4 linked regions of the Homo sapiens genome follow. The protein of the gene in region 3 purifies or fractionates together with the protein of the main gene of each other region. This does not show direct contact. Each region holds a gene or a part of one and is shown on either strand. Other genes may lie near its edges.

Region 1 (4,416 bases), on a different chromosome or scaffold from region 3:
CAAGGAACATTCAACATCATAAAAACGTTTATTCTAAATTAATGTTTGTATTTAATGTAATCCCAATAAAAATACTATCAGGATTTTTTTCTGGCACTAGTCTATGGGATTAGAAAGTTTATTTGTGAGAAAAAAACAAGAGGAACCACGAAAATCCTCAAAATGAATGAGGGGTAAACAACCTCTACCACCCATCAAAACATATTAATAAATCCTCTAATTAAAAGTACAGTAGTGGCACGTAAAAGAAACTCCACAGACCCGGATTTATATAGAAATTTGGCATATGACAAAGGTGTCATTTTAATCAGTGAGAAAGAAGACTTTTTTTTTTTTTTTTGAGACAAAGTCTCACTCTGTGTCCCAGGCTAGAGTGCAGGGGCATTATCTTGGCTCACTGCAACCTTTGCTTCCCGGACTCAAATGATCCTCCAGAGTAGCTGGGACTACAGGCACACACCACCACACCCAGCTAAATTTTTGTGATTTTTGTAGAGAAGAGGTTTCACCATGTTGTCCAGGCTGGTCTCCAACTCCCAAGCTCAAGTGGTCCACATGCCTTGGCCTCCCAAAGTGCTGGGATTACAGGCATGGACCACTGAGCCTGGCCAGGACTATTTCTTTATTGTAGTGAAATTTACGTAATGGGTAAAGGACTAAAAAATTTAATAAATGATGAAAACAACTAGATAGCCTTTGGATAAAAATAAAATGTCTTCTTTTCCTCACTTTGCATATCAAGATAAACTTCAAATGGATTAAAAAAAAATTGGCTCATGCCTGTAATCCCAGCACTTTGGAAGGCTGAGGTGGGTGGATTACCTGGGGCCAGGAGTTCAAGAGCAGCCTGGCCAACATAATGAAACCCCGTCTCTACTAAAAATACAAAAATTAGCTGGGTGTGGTGGTGCATGCCTGTAATCCCAGCTACTTGGGAGGCTGAAGCAGGAGAATCGCCTGAACCCGGGAAGTGGAGGTTGTAGTGGGCCAAGATCACACCACTGCACTCCATCCGGCCTCGGTGACAGAGCAAGACTCTGTCTCAAAAAAAAAAAAAAAAAAAAAAAGGACACTACACAGGTACCAGGAAAAAATATAAATGATTCCTTTATAACCCAAAAAAAGGAAAAGCCTTTCTGTGACTCAAGATCCAGAAGCAATACATGCTGGGAGGAAGGGAAGATGCTAATGAGTAACGAGTTTATGGGAGGATGAAAATGTTCTGCAATTAGTGGTGGTAATTGTACAACTGAGTGAATATACCAAAAATCACTGAATTGTACATTTAAAAGAGTGAATTCTATGGCATATAAATTTAACTTTTTAAAAATCTAATGAAAAAATAAAAAAAAAAACAGAAATACTGGGATTTGATTATTTTAGTAACTCAATTTGTGACCTTGAGCAAATCACTTCACTTTGCCCTTTATTTCCCCATCTGTGTGAATAGCTCATTAAAGCCTTCCTAAGAGGCCTGATATCCATAATAAATTTAAGAAGATGGATGAAAGACTATCTAATCAGATATGAATAAACATACAGCTTGTGGGGACAAAAAAGCTGATAACATAAGAAACTGAAAGGAGAGCTTCCACATAAACTATGAACCTTCTTCACAGTTCTCAATGTATAATTATCTACTAGCTATCATTCTTTAAGAGCTTATGTGTCAGTGTCAGGAACTATAAGTGCTTTTTATGTATTATCTTATTCTCACAGCACTCTCAGGTAAGCAGAAGTATTCTCATTTTAGAGATAAGAAAATAGACTATGAGAAGTTAAATGACTCGACCAATGTAAATACCTAAGTTGGGCTTCAAACTTAGATCTTTGTCACTTCAAATATCAAACCCTTCAATGCAAGCTATAGAAAGAACAATGGACTAAAAATACGAAGTCCTGGGTTTGAATGTTGTTCCTGCCACATAATGATTCTGTGATCTTAGGCAAGTCAATGAACATTTCAGTTTTCTCATTTATTAAAAGAAAATATTAACTCCTGCCCTAGTTTACCTCATAGAATATAAAAAGGGACTACTATATACATGTCAGTTAAATCACTACAGAGCTGGGCATGCTAGCATGTATCCTCAGTCCTACCTACTCAAGAGGATGAAGTGGGAAGACTGCTTGAGCCCACGAGTTTGAGGTTGTAATGCACCAAGATTATGCCTGTGAAAAGCCACTGTACTTCAGCCTGGGCAACACAGCAAGACTCTATCTCTTGCAAAAGAAAAAAAAAGGAATTTAAGAGATAATAATAGAAAAGTAGAACTTTTTTTTTTTTGAGATGGAGTTTCGCTCTTGTTGCCCTGGCTGGAGTGCAATGGCGCGATCTCGGCTCACCACAACCTCCGCCTCCCAGGTTCAAGTGATTCTCCTGCCTCAGCCTCCTGAGTAGCTGGGATTACAGGCATGTGCCACCACGCCAGCTAATTTTGTATTTTTAGGAGAGACGGTGTTTTTCTATGTTGGTCAGGCTGGTCTTGAACTCCCGACCTCAGGTGATCCACCCGCCTCGGCCTCCCAAAGTGCTGAGATTACAGGCATGAGCCACCACACCTGGCCAAAAAGTACAACTACTGATAAACCAAAAACACGTTGAATAATGAATGGCTTTAATATTTTATAGTTCCTCTAATAGTAATAGTATATACGAAAGCAGTGACTTTCAAAAGATACTTCTCTCAAGCACACCAGGGGTGCAAAGCAAATAGGGATCTCAAATCTACTTTAGTCAGAGTAGCTCTAAAAGCTTTAATAAAGAAGTTCAAAACCACTGTTTTTGGCAACATCCATTGGCATCTATTAAAAGGAAGAGTGACACCAGGATTTCAGGCCTTACCCAAGAGAAAATATTAGTGTACTGAAAAGTGAATGGATTCTAGAGACTAAACTTAGATTGAATCCTAGCTCTGCTACCTACTAGTTGGGTTACTTTTAATCTCTGGGTCTGAATGTCTTTACCCACAATGCAGGAAAATATTCACCATGCAGGTCTGTGGACACATTAAATAACATAAAGTTACCATTACAATGTCTGGCACACAGTACTTACTTTAAAAATTGCTATTATTAAATTATCCAACAATACTTTGGAATTACTAAATCTAATCTGAAAAACTGAATTATGGAAACTCATGAAAAATCACCAACTCAGAATATGCACCCTGAATATGCAAACATGCCTAAATAATGTTTAGTGAAATTGAAGGCAAGAGATCATGAAAAATAGTTAAGAGTAAGCCACACAAGAGACTATCAAGAGAACAGGACTAACTTGTGAGTAACATAGATAGAGTGGAAGAATGGAAGTTAAGAAAAAAGCAAGTAAGCATAAGGAGACATAAAGAATGCTTTGAAATTGGTGTGAGACTTCATAAATTACGACTGAAGAAAAAGACTGAATCCTAGATTATATGCAAATGAGTAAGATACACAACTCAAAATAAGTATCCCCAGATGACAATTATGACTCCAAAATACACAATGGGTCTCACAGTCAAGAGACCCAAGTCCTAGTCCTTAACGGCCCTACCGCTAAGCTTCTAGGGTACCTTAGGAATATCTGAGTCTCAGTTCCCTCATTTATTAATACATTCCCTTATAGAATACAGAACTCTCTGAATATTGGGTTCCTCAACTACATGAAGTGGTGAAATGAGACCATGTCTATGCTTTCTCTCAGCTTTATGATTCTAAGGAGAAAGAGAATCTATATTATTACTACCATGAGACTTAGATGAAGCCTGCTTATATACCAATAAAGTAGAAAAGAAAGATACGGGAAAATAAGCCATTTGAGGACCACACAAATATTCGCCAATATATGCTCTTCTCTTCACAATACTATCATAAAGAAAGGCCTTTCTAAAGAACTTTCTTTTCCAGGATAAGCAGTTAACCTAAACCAAGAAGACCAAAGCATCTTTTTAAAAAGGTAAGTTGTCCAGGCACAGTAGCTCACTCCTATAATCCCAGTACTTTGGGAAGCCAAGTGGGGCAGATCACTTAAGGCCAGGAGTTTAAGACCAGCCTGGCCAACATGGCGAAATCCCCTCTCTACTAAAAATACAAAAATTAGCCGGGCGTGGTGGTGCATGCCTGTAATCCCAGCTACTTGGGAGGCTGAGGCACAAGAATCACTTGAGCCCGGGAGGTGGAAGTTGCAGTGAGCCGAGATTGTGCCACTGCACTCTAGCCTGGGCAACAGAGTGAGACTCTGTCTCTAAAAAAAAATAAAATGAAAAGTAATAAAAAATAAAAACGATAAATTACTAACAATTATACAATCTTCTAATCAGCAGATTTTCCTTTTTTTTTCTCTCAGTATCTTCATTCAGTTCTTCAATCTTCAGAGAACTTGTTTCTCCAAGATGAGAAGCTGAGCTCTAATTAAGCTTATCTAAGGAATGT
Region 2 (4,416 bases), on a different chromosome or scaffold from region 3:
TCATCACACCCAGCTTATTTTGTTGTTGTTGTTTTTGTTGTAGTTGGTAGAAACAGGGTCTCGCTATGTTGCCGGGGCTGGTCTCAAACTCCTGGCCTCAATCAGTACTTCTGCCCTGGCCTCCCAAAGTACTGAGATTACAGGCATGAGCCATCGCATCCCATTCTTTACTTTTTTTTTTTTTTTAAAGAAAAACTGACATGCAGATGTAATAAGTCCCCACAGTGCCAAAGGAATTTTAAGTTTAGAATCTTTGCAATAAATACCAGCTAGTCCTGGGCTGAGTGAGAGAAAACTGGCACATCTGGGCACTTGGTATTAAGTAAATTCCTTTTCCATTATATGTGGCTTGTAGACATTTAGCTGGATGCTTCCAGAATAATTAGCTTTATGTTGTTACTTTTTTTTTTTTTTTTTTTTTTTGAGATGGAGTCTTGCTCTGTTGCCAGGCTGGAGTGCAGTAGCGCAATCTTGATTTACTGCAACCTCCACCTCCTGGGTTTAAGCGATTCTCCTGCCTCAGCCTCCTGAGAAGCTGGGACTACAGGTGCGTGCCACCACGCCCAGCTAATTTTTGTATTTTTAGTAGAGATGGGGTTTCACCATGTTGGCCAGGATTGTCTCGATCTCTTGACCTCGTGTTCTGCCCGCCTCTTCCTCCCAAAGTGCTGGGATTACAGGCGTAAGCCACCGCACCTGGCATATTTGTTGACTTCTTGATAGTCTACTACAAATACTTAAACAGAGATATGTGGGTTTCTATGATGGTGTTTAAGTTGGACTTTTAAGAGGGCCCTTTCAGAAAACTGCAGATACTGCAGTAGGGCTCACGAATAGGCTGCCAGGAAAGGAGGCTGAGTGGGCGGCGAGTCAAATGGGAGGTCAGCAGGGGCAAGATCAAGTAGGACCAACAATACCTGGCACAACACTTTGGTAAGTTGTAAGGCTGAGAGCAAGGTGGTGACTCTGGAGGGGTCTATGCAGGAGAGGGAAGGAGGTCCTGGAGTGGTGAGCTGAGCGTTTGGAGCTCAGATAGAAGACTCAGTGGACTCCCCCTCAACACACACATACCTTTTTCCAGTTTCAGCTGCCGTGGAGTGGTGAAAGCCCACGTGTGATTAAGGGGCTGGGGCCCCTGTAACAAAAACATCAATCTGTGTATTTTTGCCCTGCACTTGGCTTCTGCAGGGTTATCCTGCTGCTGTAGATTTTTTGCCAACATCAGGTCACAACTTCTGTATGGCCAGTTTGTGAGTCACCCTGAACCTGGTGACAGTGAGGTCAAGATTTGGACCAGGTAGCTTTGCTCTACTTCTTGGCCACAGGCTACCTTCTGAGTGCAGCTGCCTGTCTCAGAGTTGGGTGCTGTAGCCGCAGGGCCGACTAGATAGCACCTGTGGCCCCATCACAGCCAGGAGCAAGGGCACGCCCAACTTGGTGATGGCCCAGAATGGTCAGTTTTGATTTAGCGCACCACAAACTTATTTATTGTTTATTCTCATTCTTAATCTAATCTTGTGTTTTCTCAAAAAAAAAAAAGGGAAAAAAAAAGCAGTAGCAAAACAAAACCTTGTCAAGATTGCAGAGGAGTTCTAAAGTTCCAGAATGAGCATATCTGATCAAAGTCCCCTGAAGGTCAGAACTGCCCTTGACAGTCCCTTAGGAAGGTGCCTTGTTGGACACCGCCCCAGTCAGTCAGTCAGTCCCCACTGCCAGCGTTTCCTCCAGCATTAGAACTATCATGGCTTCTTTGGTTAAACACCAAATGGACTAGTTCTCAAACCTGTGCCTTTAGACAGCAGGGTCACACTTAATGTAGTCGGAGAGATGCTCATGCCATGAGAAGCATGTAGGAACCAAGGCCTGCTGAGGAACAAAAACCTCACATCTCCCAGCTTGCACACACTTCAGGGTTCTGTGGGAATTGCCTTTTTTTTTTTCTTGTTTCCTTCTCCCCCGCCACATAAACTCACTTTGTTGAATCTACAGAAGTTAAATCTGCATGTATAGTTTCATTGTGCTTTTTTTTTTGTATCTGAGTATCTCATAAAGCAGGGATTCTCTTAGCTGGCCAAGAAAGTGCTGTTTAGGGAAGACACATTAACTTGAAGCAGACTTTTTCAGTGCTACCTTTAAGTCTGTTTTTCTTTTTTTTTTTTTTTTTTTTTTGAGATGGAGTCTTGCTCTATCGCCCAGGCTGGAGTGCAATAGCATGGTCTCGGCTCACTGCAACCTCCGCCTCCCGGGTTCAAGCGATTCTCCTGCCTCAGCCTCCTGAGTAGCTGAGATTACAGGCGTGTGCCACCATGCCCAGCTAATTTTTGTATTTTTAGTAGAGATGGGGCTTCACCTTGTTGGTCAGGCTGGTCTCGAACTCCTGACCTTGTGATCCGCTTGCTTCGGCTTCCCAAAGTGCTGGGATTATAGGTGTGAGCCACCACACCCGGCTTAAATCCTTTTTTTCTTAAGAGACAAAATCTCTGTCACCCAGGCTGGAGTGCAGTGGTGTGATCATAGCTCGCTGCAGCCTCAAACTTCTGGCCTCAAGTGATCCCTCTGCCTCAGCCTCCCAGGTAGCTAGGACTGCAGGTGTGTGCCACCACACCAGGCTAATTTTTTAAAATTTTTTGTAGATGGGGGTCTCACTGTGTTGCCCAGGCCAGTCTTGAACCCCTGGGCTCAAGCAGCTCTCCTGCCTTGGCCTCCCAAAGTGCTGGGATTACAGGCATGAGCCACTGCTACCGACTTAAATGCTTATTTTTGAGGTAATCTGTCAGAAAATAAAAGGAGATTTAACAGATTATTAAATTATTTTGAGGAAGAAGTCACAATTCTAAGCGTTGAGTGTTCATATAAGCAAGTGTGTTTAAAAAAAAAGCATTTTAAAAAGCGATACAGCAAAGTGGTTACATTGTAGGCATCAGTGTGTTCCTGCCATATTAAATAGCAAACAAACCCATGTGTCATAATGCTATGGGATTGTAGTTGAAACCTGGGATAAAGTTTCTAGGGTTGTCTCATTCAAAATTCGAGTATGGCACTGTAGACATACTGTCCAGAGAACACAGCAAGAGCTGTGGTCAGCTGTATGACTTAAGGTCTAGTGTTGGGAAAGATGCTGATATCCTCATGAAATGTGAAGCATGGCAAGAAGCCTAGTTAAGATACTATTTTAAATGATGGGTGATTTTAAAATATTTATACATAACTGAATTCATACAATGAATACTAAGAATAGACATTTGCTTACTTCAACCCTAGAAGTATAGGTGGCCACAAACTTTTTTTTTCCCCTTCTCATTGGAGAAAATTGCAGGTGATTAAATTTTGAGATTGCCTTATGTTTGTAGCCATTTGGTTATATAGTGGAGGAGACTTGACGAATAAAAGTAGCAGATACAGCAGGAAGTGCTAAGCTACTGTCCAAGGGAGGAGTAGAGAGGCTTTCCAGAAGGGCAGGAGAAGAGAATGGGTGCTGAACAGCCCGGGGAGTCAGGGCCAACTTGCTAGAGGAAGTGACACCCAAACTAAACCTGAAGGGCAGATAGATTTAGCTAGGTGGAGTTTAGGGACGAAGTGTCAGAGAGAATGTGTCCCAGGGCCAAGCCAAGCTATAGTCCTTTGGGAACACTGCAGATGCTGCAGTAGGGCTCAGGAGTAGGCCACAAGGGAAGGAGGGTGGACTCTGGGATAGAAGTCAAGCGGGAGGTCAGCAGGGCCAGAACAACTAGGATCCAGAACAACACTTTGCTAAGTTTAATACTGGAACAAGGCCAAGATTTCATGCTGAGAACAGGGCAGTGACTCTGGAGGGATGGGAGCAGGGGAGAGAGGTCCTGGAGTACTGGTCCAGGAGCTGCCATCTGCAATGGTGTAAAGAAAGGACTGAGAGCCCCATTGTCCCCTGGACAGAGCTGAAGTTGTGGGCCAGCTGCCCTGTGACCTGATACTCAATGTGCTTGTACTCTTGCCTTGTTCCAGGTGTGGACACTGCCAGCGGCTGCAGCCGACTTGGAATGACCTGGGAGACAAATACAACAGCATGGAAGATGCCAAAGTCTATGTGGCTAAAGTGGACTGCACGGCCCACTCCGACGTGTGCTCCGCCCAGGGGGTGCGAGGATACCCCACGTAAGTTGGAAGGAAGGGGGCACACTTCCTAGGTGGCTCCTGGCTACAAAGAAAGTCCTAGTTAAACTTTTGGTAAAGGTGTGAAGAGATACTAAATTTAAGCAGGCAGTCCCTGTCATTAGGGAGAAACTGCATTTAATGCTGTGTCTGTTTTAGATGGCTTTTATACTTGGATAACCTTTAATTCATCAGTGTTGGGTTTTCCTGTTTATAAGAGAATGTGTTTGCAAGAGAAAAATGACGGTCCCGCCATGCTAGATGTTCACCGGTACATTTTACACAGTG
Region 3 (5,332 bases):
GTTTCTCTCTTGTTGCCCATGCTGGAGTGCAATGGCACGATCTCGGCTCATTGCAACCTCCGCCTCCCAAGTTCAAAGGATTCTCCTATCTCAGCTTCTGAAGTAGCTGGGATTACAGGCATGTGCCACCACACCCGGCTAATTTTTTTTTATTTTTAGTAGAGATGGGGTTTCACCATGTTGGTCAGGCTGGTCTCAAACTCCTGACCTCAAGTGATCCACCCACCTCGGCCTCCCAAAGTGCTGGGATTACAGGCGTGAGCCACCGTGCCTGGCCTAATTTTTGTATTTTTAGTAGAGACGGAGTTTCACCACATTGGCCAGCCTGGTCTCAAACTCCAGACCTCAAGTGATCCACCCGCCTCAGCCTCCCAAAGTGCTGGGGTTACAGGTGTGAGCCACTACGCCTGGCGCCTGTCTTCTTCTAATATGCCTCTTCTGACCTCCTCACTCCCATTGGAGCCATGGCTCACTTCTGGTCAGGCTCCATGCACTCAATCAGCCCTGCCTGCCAGGACTGTAGTGCCCACTTGATGAGAAATCACCTGTGAAAATGCCAGGCATGGTCTGGCACACAGTAGGTGCTCAAGAAACAAATGTTAATGCCCCAGCTTCCTTCTGTCTTGTGTCCACTAATTTGGCATTTGGAGCATATTTTTGTACTTCACGTAATTAAATATTTACTGTGTGCCAAGGTCAGTGTGTGACAGAGCACTGTAGGGGAGGCAAAAATGAACCAACTCTGGACCTTGCCCTGCAGAAGCTCTGTCTACTGGCATGAGGTAAGACAGGTCCACAGATAACTTACATAAGAGAGACTGCAATCTGGACAAGACAGCCTCAGTGGGAGAGGGAAGGAGAACCCTGTAGATTTGGGTGCGGGGAGGCTGTGGGGAGAGCACAGCCTTTCAGGTAAAGGGACAAGGTTAGGAAAGCAAGAAGGTGTAGCTTGTGCTCGTGGAGCCCAGGAAACTCCTTGGGCTAGAAAAGATTTGGTGGCACTCTATACAGTGTATGTGTCTGTCTGTCTATCTAACATGAATGGTACTATTTTCTCCTATTGGTGTGCATTGTACCTAACAAAAAATCCATGTCCCAAGTACTTTTCTCTTTTCTTTCTTTCTTTTTTTTTTTGGAATGAAGTCTTGCTCTGTCGCCCAGGCTGGAGTGAAGTGGCGCTATCTCGGCTTACTGCAACCTCCTCCTCCTGGATTCAAGCAGTTCTCCTGCCTCAGCCTCCCCAGTAGCTGGGATTACAGGCACGCACCACCACGCCCAGCTAATTTTTTTTGTATTTTTAGTAGAGGTGGGGTTTAACTGTGTTGGCCAGGCTGGTCTCGAACTCCTGACCTCAAGTGATCTGCCCATCTCAGCCTCCCAAAGTGCTGAGATTATAGGTGTGAGCCGCCATGCCCGGCCAACAGTACTTTTCTCTAGAGGTAGAATTGCAGGGGATTTTTCTCTTTTTGCTTATCTGCACTTTTCTAAAAGTTCTGCCATGAACACGGGCATTTTTTGTGGAATAAACAAAGTTTAAATGTTGGCTAGATCAGTGCTTCTTTATGCATAAGGAAGGATTAGTTCTTTTTTTTCTATTTCCAATTTATTGATTCTTTGATAAAATGCAATGCAATAAAATTATTATTTTTTTTTAGAGACGTCTCCCTCTCTCACCCAGGCTGGAGTGCAGTGGTGCAATCATAGCTTACTGCAACCTTGAACTCCTGGGCTCAAGCGATCCTCTTGCTTTAGCCTCCTGAGTAGCTGGGACTACAGGTGTGGACCACCACACCTGGCTGATTTTTAAACTTTTTGTAGATACAGGGTCTCGCCATGTTGCCCAGGCTGGTCTCGAACTCTTGGGCTCAAGCCATCCTGCCACCTCAGCCTCCCAAAGTGCCGGGATTACAGGCGTGAGCCACCATGCCCAGCTAGAAAATTACTTTTTTGGCTAGGCACCGTGGCTCACGCCTGTAATCCCGGCACTTTGGGAGGCTGAGGCAGGCAGATTGCTTGAGCCCAGGAGTTCGAGACCATCCTGGGAAGCATGGCAAGACCTCCATCTCTACAAAAAATTCGAAAATTAGCTGGATGTTGTGGTGCACACCTGCAGTCCCAGCTACTTGGGAGGCTGAGTTGGGAGAAACAGTTGAGCCCGGGAGGTCAAGGCTGCAGTGAGTCGAGATTGCACCACTGCACTCCAGCCTGGGCGACAGAGACCCTGTGTGAAAAAAAAAAAAAGAAGAGAATTTTTTTTAAACAGTCATTGCTTGCTCAGATGTTTACTTTAAAAGATAATAATGAACAAGAAGCAGTCACATAAAATACAAGCCCAAATTTTATATCATTAGATTCTGATTGTCATGAAAGTTTCTAAAGACTTACTTTCATTTCTCAACTTACCTTGTTGACCAGCAGGGATTGGTGAACCATGCTGTGAGTAGCATTGGGCTAGAGAGAGGGGAGGCAGGAATCTAGAAGAGCTGTTTTCCAGATGTGACCATCTCCTGAGGACAGGGACCATGTCTCATGTGCCACCCATCACCCCCCACAGACAGAGCCTGCAGCCAATGCCCCAGGAGCCCTCGGTTCCAACCAACTGATGCCCCTGTGCCCACTGGCCCACGCCATGCAGCCCCAGTCCGTTCTGCACAGCGGCTACTTCCACCCACTACTTCGGGCCTGGCAGACAGCCACCACCACCCTCAATGCCTCCAACCTCATCTACCCCATCTTTGTCACGTGAGTCTCCAAGAATGGGCCAGGCCTCTGCTCTGCTGGTTGGGGTTGGGGTTGGGGAGGGAGTGTTGACTGGAGCGGGCATCAGTATGGCTGGGGGTGGCAAAGTGAGCTGTCAGCTTGAAATTCAAGGCACTGGAAGCAGGCTACTTGGATTAAGGACAGGAATCTTAGGAACAAAACAAACTTTGAAAGAACTCATTCATCCCATTTGGAAAATTAGAAGAATAACCCTTGCCTGCCATCCTGAGCTCTTGCAGTAAGACAGAAGCTGAGAAGGTGCTCTGTACATTGTAAAGTGCTATGTACCTGTAAGAGATGGCAGTCATTGAGGCTGGGCACGGTGGCTCACGCCTGTAATCCCAGCACTTTGGGAGGCTGAGGCAGGCGGATCACGAGGTCAGGAGATCGAGACCATCCTGGCTAATATGGTGAAACCCTGTCTCTACTAAAAACACAAAGAAATTAGCCAGGCGTGGTGGCGGGTGCCTGTAGTCCCAGCTACTTGGGAGGCTGAGGCAGGAGAATGGCGTGAACCCGGGAGGCGGAGCTTGCAGTGAGCCGAGATTGCACCACTTCACTCCAGCCTGGGCGACGGAGCCAGACTCCATCTCAAAAAAAAAAAAAAAAAAAAGAGATGGCAATCGTGATTGTTAATAATAATGCAGACATTTACTGAGTACTTACTATCTACCAGGTACTATGCTAAGCACCTACACACATTATCTCATTCAATTCTGAGAGCATTTGTATGAAGAAGGAGTAGCTATCCTCTAGAACATCAGCTCCATGAGGGCAGGGATGTTTGTCTATTTTGTTCACTGTTGTATCATCAGGGCCTAGAACAGTACTTGGCACATAATAAGTACTCAATAAATATTTGTTGAATGAATGAATTAACCACGCATGATATAGATGAAGGCCTAAGGCTCAAAGAGATGATAGAACTTGGCCACGGTCACCCAGGCAGTAAGTGGCTGGGATAGAAAGCAAGGACCTGCCAAATTCAGAGTCCAAGTTCTTAACCACTTAATTCCTTCCTGTAATTACCGTTCTTTTAGTACAGTTGCTAGTGTTGTCACTGTTATTCTTGTTGTTCCTATTATTATTTCAGGCCCTGGGCTTGGCCAGGCAGGGAAGCCAGACACTGGATCCCATCCTCCTCCCACCATCTCCACTTCCATATTTCTTTCCTGCTTCCCAACCATCCCTCTCAGTCGCCCCCGCACCACTGGCCCTTCCCACAGCTACCAATCCATATCCCACCCCCGCTCTTGCAGGGATGTTCCTGATGACATACAGCCTATCACCAGCCTCCCAGGAGTGGCCAGGTAGGAGACGTGGAGTTGGGGGGCCAGCGGGTGGTGGAGGGAGAGATTCCACAGGTGGAAGTGCTGGGAGGCAGAAGCAGACCTAGGAAGTAGAAGATGCGGACAGACAGACATTAGCTCAGTAGAGGAAAGGGTTTCCCCGGGGCCAGAGCTGTTCCACAGTGGAAGGGGCAGCCCCATAAAGTAAAGAGCTACCCATCACCCGAGACGTCGTGGCAGAGGCTGTTGCAGAAGGGAGCTGAACTGCAGATGGGAGTTCAAAAAGAGGGCCTCGAAGGAGCCTTCCACAGCCGAATTCCGGAGCTCTGCTACTCAGGGCCTCAGTCTTCCCTCCTATTTAGTGGATGCATCCCTGCCCCTTCTGTCCTGGGGGCTTGAGCCCTCCTGGTGCCATATGCAGCTTGGTTTCTAACAGAGGCACACAGTGTGGTGGGGTCCGGAGGACCGTTGCCTGGGACCTGCCTTCCTTCAACCCCTCTACCCACACCCACACAGGTATGGTGTGAAGCGGCTGGAAGAGATGCTGAGGCCCTTGGTGGAAGAGGGCCTACGCTGTGTCTTGATCTTTGGCGTCCCCAGCAGAGTTCCCAAGGTGAAGAATCAAAGGAAGGGCTAAGAAGGGAGGTTGCGCTCACGCCCGTAATCCCAGCACTTTGGGAGGCCAAAGTGGGTGGATCACTTGAGCCCAGGATTTTGAGACCAGCCTGGACAACATGGCAAAACCCATCTCTACAAAAAATACAAAAGTTAGCTGGGTGTGGGGGTATGTGCCTGTAGTCCCAGCTACTCGGGAGGTGGAGAGGTGGGAGGATTGCTTGAGCCCAGAAAGTCGAGGCTGCAGTGAGCCAAAATCGCGCCAGTGCACTCTAGCCTGGGTGACAGAGCAAGACCCTGTCTCCAATACAAACAGAAAAAGGAAGGGAGGTTGGGCAAAGGTGGACTGAGGGTCCACACTGACTGCACCCTCACTCCCACATTGTGCTGGCCCTGGGGCCACAGGTGAATGGACGTGGTCTTTGCCCTTAAGTCAGCACCCATGTAGGGTCAGTCCTCTGTGCTTCCTTATCCAGGGGCTGTGATGATGAAGGAAGGAGAAGGCCAGGGCTATGCTCTGTGATGGCTGTCATCCTGCCTTCCAAAGCTACATGTAATAGACACACTGCTTTGTCCCTCCCCTGCCCCTAGGACGAGCGGGGTTCCGCAGCTGACTCCGAGGAGTCCCCAGCTATTGAGGCAATCCATCTGTTGAGGAAGACCTTCCC
Region 4 (4,416 bases), on a different chromosome or scaffold from region 3:
TTTTGTATTTTTAGTAGAGAGGGGTTTCACTATGTTGGCCAGACTGGTCTTGAAAAAGGCGGGTGGGTATTATAAGAAGACAGCCAGCTGGACCTGGGGGTAGGGCATGGCTCCCTGCGGAGGCCCTGTCTGTCTACGTGTCACACAGTCAGACATGCCACCCCAGCCTCGTGATCCGCCCACCTCGGCCTCCCAAAGTGCTGGGATTACAGGCGTAAGCCACGGCGCCCAGCCTTAATTTTTCATATTTTAGTAGAGATGGCGTTTCACCATGTTGCTCAGGCTGGTCACAAACTTCTGAGCTCAGGCAATCCACCCTCCTCAGCCTCCCAAAGTGCTAGAATTACAGGCGTGAGCCCCCGCGCCCACACAACTTAGAAAACTTTTTTTTTTTTTGAGACAGAGTCTTGCTCTGTCCCCCAGGCTGGAGTGCAGTAGCGCGATCTCTGCTCACTGCAAGCTCCGCCTCCTGGGTTCACACCATTCTCCTGCCTCAGCCTCCCGATTAGCTGGGACTACAGGCGCCTCCACAATTTTTTTTGTATTTTTAGTAGAGACGGGGTTTCACCATGTTAGCCAGGGTGGTCTCCATCTCCTGACCTCATGATCTGCCCGCCTCGGCCTCCCAAAGTGCTGGGATTACAGGCGTGAGCCACTGCGCTCGGCCAGAAAACTTTCTTAACCCATGGCCCCTTCAATTAAAAAAAAAAAAATCTCCCATCCTCACTTTACTTCTGAAAACTTAAAATAAATTAAAAGTGTATATAATTGGCTGGGCACAGTGGCTCACTCCTGTAATCCCAGCACTTTGGGAGGCCCAGGCAGGCAGATCACTTGAGGCCAAGAGTGACCAGCCTGGGCAACATGGCGAAAGCCCTCTCTACTAAAAATACAAAAATTAGCCAGATATGGTGGTGCATGCCTGTGATCCCAGCTGCTACTTCGGAGGCTGAGGCAGGAGAATCGCTTAAACCCGGGAGGTGGAGGTTGCAGTGAGCTGATTGCACCACTGCACTCCAGCCTGGGTGACAGAGCCGAGACTCCATCTCCAAAAATACATATGTATAAGTAAAAATAAATACATTAATTAAAAGTGTATAACTAAAAACAAACAAAAGCCATGGCACTTTTAGAATAGGCTTTTTTTTTTTTTTTTTTTTTTGAGAGGGAGTCTCACTCTGTCGCCAGGCTGGAGTCCAGTGGCACGATTTCGGCTCATTGCAACCTCCGCCTCCCGGGTTCACGCCATTCTCCTGCCTCAGCCTCCTGAGTAACTGGGACTACAGGCGCCCGCCACCACACCTGGCTAATGTTTTGTATTTTTAGTAAAGACGGGGTTTCACTGTGTTAGCCAGGATTGTAGAATAGGCCTTTTCAAAATGTGAAACCAGCTCCCACCCCACCTCTGCTCTCCCGTCTTTTCTTGGAGAGCCAATAGTATAATGGCAAATTTTAGAACTCAGCTGACTACATATTAGCTGTGTGACCTTGGGCAAGGCACTGAGTCTCTCAAGTCTCCATTGCTCTCATTAAGAAAAATGAGAACAAGAATGCCCACCTCACAGGGGAGACAAAGAAGATACGGAATGTAAAATGCCAAGCATTTAATCCCATATAGTAATGCTCCTCTGCCCCTCCGTGCTGTACGTACCACTCCCCACTTGCTGTCAGCAAATAGTAGCAGCCATCAGGCCCGGGCATCCCACCCAACCCCGTCCCAGGGCAATAGCAGCCCTTGTCCTCCTCAGGGACTTGCCTTTCACAACAGTCCGTTCTCTTAAGGTGGGCGTCACGGCCGACCTAGGAGGGGGACTTGAAAAGGAGGTGAGAAGTGTGTGTGCGTATCCACACCTGGCTATAGGGAGGGGGGATTGTGTGCGTGTGTGCAGGCACACCTGTGCATCTGTGCCACCATGGGCAGTGTGTGTGTGTCTGAGGTCACTGTATCCCATCTGTCCCTCCCCCCCCAGCTATGATCGCAACACCTTGGTGGCCATCGTGGTGGGTGTGGGGCGCCTCATCACTGGCATGGACCGAGGCCTCATGGGCATGTGTGTCAACGAGCGGCGACGCCTCATTGTGCCTCCCCACCTGGGCTATGGGAGCATCGGCCTGGGTGAGAAGGGCTGGGGCACAGGCCGGGGGTGGAGGAGACCACGAGGCAGAATCAGGGATCCTGGGGTGAGAAAACTGAAGTGCGGAGATGAGGAGTGACTTGCCCAATGTCACACTGTGCACGCAGTATGAAGAGTGGCAGCTCTGGCTGGGGCAGTAGCTGACATATATGGTCCCAGAGTTTTGGGAGGCCGAGGTGGGAGGATTGCTTGAACCCAGGAGTTCCAGACCAGCCTAGGCAACATAGTGAGACCTCGTCTCTACAAAAAATAAAATAAATTATCCAGGTGTGGTGGTGTGTGCCTGTAGTCCCAACTACTCAGAAGGCTCAGGTGGGAGGATTGCTTGACCCCGGGAGGCTGCAGTGAGCCATGATCATGCCACTGAATTCCACCCTGTGTGACAGAGCAAAACCCCTCTTTTTTTCTTTTTCTTTTTTTTTTTGAGACAGCATCTCACTCTGTTGCACAGGCTGGAGTTTAGTGGTGCGATCTCGGCTCACTGCAACCTCAGCCTCCTGGGCTCAAGCAGTCCTCCCTCTCAGCCTCCCAAATAGCTGGGACTACAGGTGCACACCACCACACGTGGCTAATTTTTTGTATTTTTAGTAGAGATGGGGTTTCGCCATGTTGCGCAGGCTGGTCTTGAACTCCTGGGCTCAAGCCATCCACCTGCCTTGGCCTCCCACAGTGCTGGGATAACAGGCATGAGCCACTGTGTCTGGCCCCCTATCTCTTAAAAAAAAAAAACAAAAATAGTGGCATCTCTGTCCCTGGTTTGGGTCTCTTGGTGCTGGGATGAGAGGAAGGGGAATAACAGGGCCCTGGCTGGGATCGTGGTTGGCAGAGCAGAACTCTGAGACCTCCACGCTGCTGCGCTCTCACAGCGGGGCTCATTCCACCGGATGCCACCCTCTACTTCGATGTGGTTCTGCTGGATGTGTGGAACAAGGAAGACACCGTGCAGGTGAGCACATTGCTGCGCCCGCCCCACTGCCCCCGCATGGTCCAGGACGGCGACTTTGTCCGCTACCACTACAATGGCACCCTGCTGGACGGCACCTCCTTCGACACCAGGTGAGGGGCTGGAGGGGAGCCCTGAGGCACTGGGGACTGTGGCATGGGGAGCGGGAATCCGGGGCCCAGCCTGCCTCTCCCACCTCCACCTCATTTTCTGCAGCTACAGTAAGGGCGGCACTTATGACACCTACGTCGGCTCTGGTTGGCTGATCAAGGGCATGGACCAGGGGCTGCTGGGCATGTGTCCTGGAGAGAGAAGGAAGATTATCATCCCTCCATTCCTGGCCTATGGCGAGAAAGGCTATGGTGAGGGTGGGCAAGGACACAAGGGGAAATTCCGCAGAAGAGGGAAAAACCAGGCCTCCACATACAGTTGCTCAGGTTGTATACTGCACGAGGGCATCCAACCAAGGACTCAAGGTGGGATGAAATCTACCCTTGGTGCTACTAAGAAGGGGTGCTTTGGCCGGGCGTGGTGGCTCACGCTTGTAATCCCAGCACTTTGGGAAGCCAAGGCGGGAGGATCACGAGGTCAGGAGATCGAGACCACGGTGAAACCCCGTCTCTACTAAAAATACAAAAAAATTAGCCGGGCGTGGTGGGGGCGCCTGTAGTCCCAGCTACTCGGAGAGGCTGAGGCAGGAAAATGACGTGAACCCGGGAGGCGGAGCTTGCAGTGAGCCGAGATCGCGCCACTGCACTCCAGCCTGGGTGACAGAGCGAGACTCTGTCTCAAAAAAAAAAAAAAAAAAAGAAGGGGTGCTTTATTCTGATTCACACGAAGGCTCAGTATGAGCCGGTGGTGGCCCTGGGGAAAACCCAGCTCAGGTCTTACTGGAGGAGCAAGAAGCAGGGCTGCTGATGGGCGGGAAAGGGCTCTGGAGAGTGGGGCTAGTGTCTTGCATGGTGCCCACTGGGCCTTCCTGAGTCAAGAAGGAGCCTCGGCTTGCTCCCCAATTTTATGGTTCAAGCCCTATCCCTTCCCCAGGGACAGTGATCCCCCCACAGGCCTCGCTGGTCTTTCACGTCCTCCTGATTGACGTGCACAACCCGAAGGACGCTGTCCAGCTAGAGACGCTGGAGCTCCCCCCCGGCTGTGTCCGCAGAGCCGGGGCCGGGGACTTCATGCGCTACCACTACAATGGCTCCTTGATGGACGGCACCCTCTTCGATTCCAGGTCAGGAGGGTCTTGAGGTGGGAGGGCGGGGGCTGGGTGAAACGTGGACGAAGCTGGGGGTCACTCTGAGCTGCCTGGAAGGGGAGGGCCCCTTTGACTCCCTT

What was found. The genes of interacting proteins can lie anywhere in the genome.
Region 1: the proteins of ALAD (region 3) and PPME1 fractionate together in Homo sapiens (co-fractionation; one large-scale study listed by BioGRID). This does not show direct contact.
Region 2: the proteins of ALAD (region 3) and TXNDC5 fractionate together in Homo sapiens (co-fractionation; one large-scale study listed by BioGRID). This does not show direct contact.
Region 4: the proteins of ALAD (region 3) and FKBP10 fractionate together in Homo sapiens (co-fractionation; one large-scale study listed by BioGRID). This does not show direct contact.

Annotation. Positions count from the first base shown.
Region 1 is NC_000011.10:74,173,373-74,177,788, reverse strand, and holds part of PPME1 (protein phosphatase methylesterase 1), read right to left. Parts: intron 1-4,416. UniProt on the Homo sapiens protein: Demethylates proteins that have been reversibly carboxymethylated. Demethylates PPP2CB (in vitro) and PPP2CA. Binding to PPP2CA displaces the manganese ion and inactivates the enzyme.
Region 2 is NC_000006.12:7,904,289-7,908,704, reverse strand, and holds part of TXNDC5 (thioredoxin domain-containing protein 5 isoform 1 precursor), read left to right. Parts: intron 1-3,981; coding exon 3,982-4,131; intron 4,132-4,416. UniProt on the Homo sapiens protein: Protein disulfide isomerase of the endoplasmic reticulum lumen involved in the formation of disulfide bonds in proteins. Can reduce insulin disulfide bonds.
Region 3 is NC_000009.12:113,390,857-113,396,188, reverse strand, and holds part of ALAD (delta-aminolevulinic acid dehydratase), read left to right. Parts: exon of another isoform or gene 1-731; coding exon of another isoform or gene 732-782; intron 783-2,551; exon of another isoform or gene 2,552-2,554; coding exon of another isoform or gene 2,555-2,629; coding exon 2,630-2,742; intron 2,743-3,853; coding exon of another isoform or gene 3,854-4,019; coding exon 4,020-4,070; intron 4,071-4,565; coding exon 4,566-4,662; intron 4,663-5,255; coding exon 5,256-5,332.
Region 4 is NC_000017.11:41,815,088-41,819,503, forward strand, and holds part of FKBP10 (peptidyl-prolyl cis-trans isomerase FKBP10 precursor), read left to right. Parts: intron 1-1,970; coding exon 1,971-2,116; intron 2,117-3,001; coding exon 3,002-3,191; intron 3,192-3,294; coding exon 3,295-3,440; intron 3,441-4,122; coding exon 4,123-4,312; intron 4,313-4,416. UniProt on the Homo sapiens protein: PPIases accelerate the folding of proteins during protein synthesis.